Homo sapiens: one gene and its partner. The protein of the gene in region 2 purifies or fractionates together with the protein of the main gene of each other region. This does not show direct contact. Each region holds a gene or a part of one and is shown on either strand. Other genes may lie near its edges. The genes, in order: SCAI and ZSWIM9.

Region 1 (3,821 bases), on a different chromosome or scaffold from region 2:
AGGCCAAGGCAGGTGGATCACCTGAGGTCAGGAGTTCGAGACCAGCCTGGCCAACATGGTGAAACCCCATCTCTACTAAAAATACAAAAATTAGCCGGGTGTGGTGGTGGATGCCTGTAATCCCAGCTACATAGGAGGCTGAGGCAGAAGAATCGCTTGAACCCAGGAGGCGGAGGTTGCAATGAACCGAAATCGCACCATCGTATTCCAGCCTGGGTAACAGAGAAAGACTCTGTCTCAAAAAAAATAAAGCAGCAGCAGCACAGAGACTATATTAGGTTCTACAAACATGTTAACCTCCACAGACTGGTGGATGAATTCACACGTGTAGGTAGTGTGCTATGTGAGGGGCAAGTTTTTCACTAACACCACAAGGATCTCCAGCCCAAATTCTTTTTTTTTTTTTTTTTGAGACAGAGTCTTGCTCTGTTGCCCAGGCTGGAGTGCAGTGGCACAATCTCAGCTCACTGCAACATCTGCCTCCCGTGTTCAAACGATTCTCCTGCCTCAGTCTCTGGAGTAGCTGGGATTACAGGCGTGTGCCAAAACACCTGGCTAATTTTTGTATTTTTAACAGAGATGGGGTTTCACCATGTTGGCCAGGCTGGTCTCAAACTCCTGACCTCAAGTCATCTGCCCACCTCAGCCTCCCAAAGTGCTAGGAATACAGGCATAAGCCACGATTCCTGACTTTTCAGCCCGAATTCTATACACAGAAGTTTGATAGTAATCCTTGCTACATGAGAAAAAAGAGCTAACTTTTGATGAATTAGCTATGCTGAAATACAACTGTGATCCATATATATATATATATATATATATATATATATATATATATATATATTTTTTTTTTTTTTTTTTTTTTTTTTGAGATGGAGTTTCATTCTCGTCACCCAGGCTGGAGTGCAATGGCGCGCTCTCGGCTCACTGCAACCTCCTCCTCCCGGGTTCAAACGATTCTCCTGCCTCAGCCTCCAGAGTAGCTGGGATTATGGGCATGCGCCACCACACCAGGCTAATTTTGTATTTTTAGTAGAGATGGGGTTTCTCCATGTTGGTCAGGCTGGTCTTGAACTCCCGACCTCAGATGATCCTCCTGCCTCAGCCTCCCAAAGGGCTGGGATCACAGGCATGAGCTACCGCGCCCAGCCTATGATCCATATTTTATAGTAATTTCTTCCATACATTTTGGCACTACACAATATTTAAGTCTATATCCTTTTCCAATTTCAGTAATACTTATATAGAACTTCAGGAACACACATGATAATAAAACAGATGAGAATTTTTTAAAGAACATGTTTCTATCAAATAAAAGAAGAGGAATTATTTAGTTAAGATGAGAATAAGTTTATGAAGATTACTAACTACACTTTCAAACATTTAACTCATTTAATATACGTGTGTGTGTATGTATGTGAGTTTCGCTCTGTCACTCAGGCTGGAGTGCAACGGCGCAATCTCGGCTCACTGCAACCTCCGCCTCCCACGTTCAAGTGATTCTCTTGCCTCAGCATCCTGAGTAGCTGGGATTACAGGCATGTGCCACCATGCCCAGCTAATTTTGTATTTTTAGTAGAGGCGGGGTTTCACCATGTTGGTCAGGCTGGTCTTGAACTCCTGACCTCAGATGACCCACCTGCCTCGGCCTCCCAAAGTGCTGGGATTACAGGCATGAGCCACTGCGCCCAGCCAAGAGACGGGGATTAAAGAAGGGGAAGAGGTTTAAGGAGATAAGTGGGCACTAATGCCTTGTTTTCCTGTAGTAAGGGTAGCATGGGCCTCCTGGCTAAGAACTGGTTGGTTGGTTGGAAGATGGCCCCTCCCACACATACACCTATGCCCAAATAAAACTGGATGCACAAAAAGATATGGCCTCAGAGGAGAACACTAGAAACAAATCTGCTCCAGAGACATAAACATGAAGGAAACTCTACCTTAGCCTTTGTTCTGAGAAGAGATCAAGAAAAGTCTCCCCCAAGAATTCACGGCCATATGCTGATTCTCATGTGGTTTGAGAATCTGAATTAACATTATTTGCATGGCTGAAAAATCTATAAGGTTTTTCACTTAAAAAGAACAAAAACTGATACTGCCCCCAAGTTTTGAGGGAAAAAGCAATGCAGATCTTCGTTGGAAGAAGGCATCCTCAATTCAGGTCTTACAGAATTCTAGCTGACAGAATTACATCAAAGAAGACTCAGAAACAAAAATCATAAAACGCATGAAGAAAAAAGGCACGCCTGATTCAGCAAACAGAAACAGGATGATACAAACATCATACATAACATGCAAAAGTCTAGGTGTGGCAGCTCACACCTGTAATCCCAGCACTTTGGAGGGCCAAGGTGGGAGGATCATTTGAGGCCAGGAGCTGGAGACCAGCCAAGAGGCGGGGATTAAAGAAGGGGCAACATAGTGAGATGCACACCCCCATCCCCGGTCTCTTAAAAGAAAAAAAGTTAGTTTCATATGCTTAAATAGAAGAAGTAATTAAAATCATGATTAAGCCAATCAAAGGAATATGTAGAAAATAACCTAATACATTCATTCATTCATTCATTCATTCATTTGAGACGGAGTCTCGCTCTGTCACCCAGGCTGGAGTGCAGTGGCGCGATCTCGGCTCACTGCAACCTCTGCCTCCCGGGTTCAAGTGATTCTCCTGCCTCAGCCTCCTGAGTAGCTAGGACTACAGGCGCACGCCACCACGCCCGGCTAATTTTTGTATTTTTAGTAGAGATGGGGTTTCACCATATTGGTCAGGCTGGTATTGAACTCCTGACCTCGTAATCTGCCCGCCTCGGCCTCCCACAGTGTGGGGATTACAGGTGTGAGCCACTGCACCTGACCTATACTTTTAAAAATAAAAAATACAATAAATGAAATGTAAAAACTGAGGCCAGGTGTGCTGGCTCGCACCTGTAATCCCAGCACTTTGGGAGACTGAGGCAGGTGAATCACCTAAGGTCAGGAGTTTGAGACGAGCCTGGCCAACATGGTGAAACCCCATCTCTACTAACAAATACAAAAATTAGCTGGGCGCGTAGGGCGTGCCTGTAGTCCTGGCTACTGGGGAGTTTGTGGTGGGAGAATCAACTGAACCAGGGAGGCAGAAGATGCAGTGAGCCGAGATCATGCCACTGCATGCTAGCCTGGGTGACAGAGCAAGACTGTCTCAAAACAAAAAGAAAAGAAAGAGAATGCTGGGGGATTTGATTATAAATTAATATGCAAGCAAATTATCAGATATATAGTAATTATAAATATTAATATGATAATTTTAAAAGTGAGAAACAAGCAATAGAACAGACCAACACACTTGTAGTTAGCATAACTAGAGAGTATAGTTAGCAGAAAAGGACTTTAAAATAACTACTAAGTGTGATCAACAAAATAGACATGGTAGAACACAAATGAAGAAATAGAGAATTCTGCCAGAGAATTAAAATCTACTAAAAAATAAAAAAGGGCCAGGTGCCGTGGTTCATGCCTATAATCCCAACATTTGGGAGGCTAGGGCAGAAGGACTGCTTGAGGCCAGGAGTTTGAGACCAGCCTTGGCAATACAGCAACACCCCATCTCTATAAAACATAAACATTTTTGGAAGGCTGAGGCAGGAAGATCACTTCAGCCTGGGAGGTCAAGGCTACAGTGAGCCATGACTGTGCCACTGCACTCCCACCTGCATGACAGAGCCAGATACTGTCTCTAAAAAGAAAAAAAAAAAATTTTTTTTAAGACAGGGTCTGCTTCTGTCACCCAGGCTGAAGTGTGTGGCACAATCATGGCTCACTGCAGCCTTGACTTCCCGGGCTCA
Region 2 (3,821 bases):
GGCGACAGAGAGAGACTCCATCTCAAAAAAACAAACAAACAAACAACAACAACAAAATAATAGCTAAATATTGAACATATGCAGGGCTTCCTACTTCTGGGCACGGTTCTACCCATTCTGCACACACACACACACACACACACACACACACACATACACATACACACTGCACTTTCTCACACAACAACCCCAACAGCCCTATAAGATAGTATTATCCCCATTTTACAGATAAATGAACTAAGGGTTGGAGAAGGTAAATAGGTTGTTCATAACTTGTTCCATGTCCCACAGCTAGTAACTGGCACAGCCAGAACATTCATAAAGCTTTCAGCACATAGCAACATAAATAAAATCAAGTCACCAGCTGTTACTATAACACCCCAAAATGGCTTCATGTGAAAACAGGCTATACGGCATAGAAAATATTCCCTCTGGGAGCCATGAAAAACTAGAAAAGCTGAAACTAAGCTGCAGGAGGCCTGTGTAACTACATAGCAGGGGAAACACGAGCCCCATATTCAGACAGGGCTTTGGGCGGCCCTTGATGAAACAGTACCCTGTGGTTATCTTTTGCCGCTTGCCAAGAAATTGCAGTTCTCCCTCTCCCGGGCACTTAGTAGCGTTGCACCTCCCTGCCCCCTTGCAGGTAAGCAGTGTCATGTGACTTGCTTTGGCCAATCAAGTGTGAGTGGGAGGGAGCTGCGGCATCGCATCCAAGGAGAAGCCTTCGCAGCCACCGCTGCCAGATATGGTAATTACGTTGGGCTGAATGCCCATCCTCCTGGGTCCCAGAATGACTCAGATAAACAGTACTCCCCCAACATCCCGTGGTGGCTGTGTAAGTGAGCAAGAAATAAAATTCAATGAGTTCAGCCACTGAGATTTGAGGGCTGTTCATTATTACAGCAAAACCTAGGCCATCCTGACTCACACAACCTCAAGACCCTCTATAACTCGCCCTCTAATTTTTCCTTTGAGGAGAGAAACAAATGCGTTTAGTATGTTGGGACTATTGCTTAATTTTCTTTCTTTTTTTTTTTTTTGAGATGGAGTCTCAATCTGTCACCCAGGCTGGAGTACAGTGGCATGATCTCGGCTCACTGCGACCTCCGCCACCCCAGGTTTAAGTGATTCTTCTGCCTCAGTCTCCCGAGTAGCTGGGACTACAGGCACCCACGAGCATGCCTGGCTAATTTATGTATTTTTAGTAGAGACGGGGTTTCACCATGTTGGCCAAGCTGGTCTCAAACTCTTGACCTCAAGTGATCCACCCACCTCAGCCTCTCGAAGTGCTGGGATTACAGGTGTGAGCCACTGCGCCCACCTTCTATTTTCATCTTCTTTTTAAGAATTAATTATTTGAATATGCAAACATCCACATGGTCCTAAAGTCAAATAATGTAAAGCGATACATAAAAGGTCTTACTCCCACCTCTTTAGTCTAATCAGTCAGTTTCCATTCACTATTCTACCCTCATCCACAGTTCTTGGTATTCTTCTAGAGTTTCTTTATATGAGTACAAGTAAGCATACCTATAATTCTTATTTGCTCTATTTTATAGATAATACAGCATATTATGTACAGTTTTGCATTTTGCTTTTTTAACTTAAAAATGTGTTTGAGAGATCTTTCAAAATAGTTCCTAGACTTGTTCTTATTCTTTTTTTTTTGTTTGTTTAGGATGGAGTCTCACTCTGTCGCCCAGGCTGGAGTGCAGTAGCACGATCTTGGCTCGCTGCAAGCTACGCCTCCTGAGTTCACACCATTCTCCTGCCTCAGCCTCCCGAGTAGCTGGGACTACAGGTGCCTGCCACCATGCCTGGCTAATTTTTTGTATTTTTAGTAGTGACAGGGTTTCACCATGTGAGCCAGGATGGTCTTGATCTCCTGACCTTGTGATCTGCCCGCCTCGGCTTCCCAAAGTTCTCATTCTTTTTTAGTGCTGTGTAGTAATCCATGGATGGATATACCACAAGTTATGTAACCATTACCCGTTGGTGGAGTCTGGGTTGTTTCTAATCTGCTGCTTTCACAAACAACAATGATTAACCTTGTAAGTAAGTCCTTCCACAGCTGTGCAACTACATCTGCAGGATAAATCACCAGTAGTGGGATTGTGAGCCTAAGGGTGAGTGTTCTTGTCATTTTGATAGATATTGCTAAATTGCCCTCCACTGAGATCATACCAGCTTCCCATGGAGTATTCTTTTTTTTTGAGATGGAGTCTCGCTCTGTCACCCAGGCTGGAGTACAGTGGTGTGAGCTCAGCTCACTGCAAGCTCCGCCTTCCGGGTTCACGCCATTCTCCTGCCTCAGCCTCCCAAGTAGCTGGGACTACAGGCGCCTGCCACCACACCTGGCTAATTTTTTGTATTTTTAGTAGAGACGGGGTTTCACCATGTTAGCCAGGCTGGTCTCGATCTCCTGACCTCGTGATCCACCCGCCTCAGCCTCCCAAAGTGCTGGGCTTACAGGTGTGAGCCATCACGCCTGGCCCCATTGAGTATTCTTAAAAGGGATACACTTGCATCAATGCTCGCCATTCTCAGAAGGCAAAGCATACACGTAAGAGAACGCTGCAACGTTTCCGGGCAAGGTCTCTCTTTTCAGGGCTTGCTTGCTGGTTACCCTGGTGCCTGCCACAAGTGAGGGAATGGAGATGTGACTGGACCCCAAAGCCCATCATCATCAGGCAGGGCAGGTGATAAAAGGTGTTAAAGGTTGGGTGCGGTGGCTCACGCCTGTAATCCCAGCACTTTGGGAGGCCGAGGCAGGCAGATCACCAGGCCAGGAGATCGAGACCATTCTGGCCAACATGATGAAACCCCATCTCTACTAAAACACACACACACAAAATTAGCCAGGCCTGGTGGCGCACGCCTGTAGTCCCAGCTACTCAAGAGGCTGAGGCACAAGAATCACCTGAACCTGGGAGATGGAGGTCGTGCTGAGCCAAGATTGCGCCACTGCACTCCAGCCTGGGAGACAGAGCGAGACTCCATCTCAAAAAAAAAAAAAGGTATTAACACCTCCCTGGGTGAAGTCGCCCCCCAGTCTTGCCCTTAAATCATGCCTTGTGGCTTTGGGCGCATCCTTCTTGTCTGATCCCCTCCAAAGATCAAGAGAGCAACCCAACTCAGGAAGTGCAGGCACTTTTTACAAATAATCCTTCCTTTGGAAGACTGCTGGGAAGTGGAAAGACTGATTGTTGCTTGACCTAGGCTTGGGATGAAAATTTAAAGCTTGCTGTCTGTCTGTCTATCTATCTATCTATCTATCTATCTATCTATCTATCTATCTATCTATTTAAAGGGTCTCACTCTGTTGTCAAGGCTGGAGTACAGTGGTGTGATCATAGCTTACTGCAGCCTGAAGCTCCTGGGCTCAAGCAACCCTCGTGCCTCAGCCTCTTGAGTAGCTGGGACTACAGATGCATGCCACCATGCCTAATTTTTTTTTTTTTAATTTTTTGTAGAGACAGGTGCTCGTTATGTTGGCCAGGCTGGTCTTGAACTCCTGGGCTCAAGTGATCCTCTCGCTTCGGCCTCCCAAAGTGCTGAGATTACAGGTGTGAGCCATCGCACCTATTATATTATCAATATTACATGTTATGCGTTACATATTATAATATTAATATAATATATAATATTATATTATATAATATATAATATATATAATATTATATATAATATATATAATATAATATAATAATAATATAATATATAATATATATAATATAATATAATATATTATAATATAATATATAATATATATAATATATATAATTAATATATAATATATAATATATATAATATAATAT

What was found.
Region 1: the proteins of ZSWIM9 (region 2) and SCAI purify together in Homo sapiens (affinity purification with mass spectrometry, with the first as the bait; one large-scale study listed by BioGRID). This does not show direct contact.

The regions. Positions count from the first base shown.
Region 1 is NC_000009.12:125,003,937-125,007,757, forward strand, and holds part of SCAI (protein SCAI), read right to left. Parts: intron 1-3,821. UniProt on the Homo sapiens protein: Tumor suppressor which functions to suppress MRTFA-induced SRF transcriptional activity. May function in the RHOA-DIAPH1 signal transduction pathway and regulate cell migration through transcriptional regulation of ITGB1.
Region 2 is NC_000019.10:48,187,426-48,191,246, reverse strand, and holds part of ZSWIM9 (uncharacterized protein ZSWIM9), read right to left. Parts: intron 1-3,821.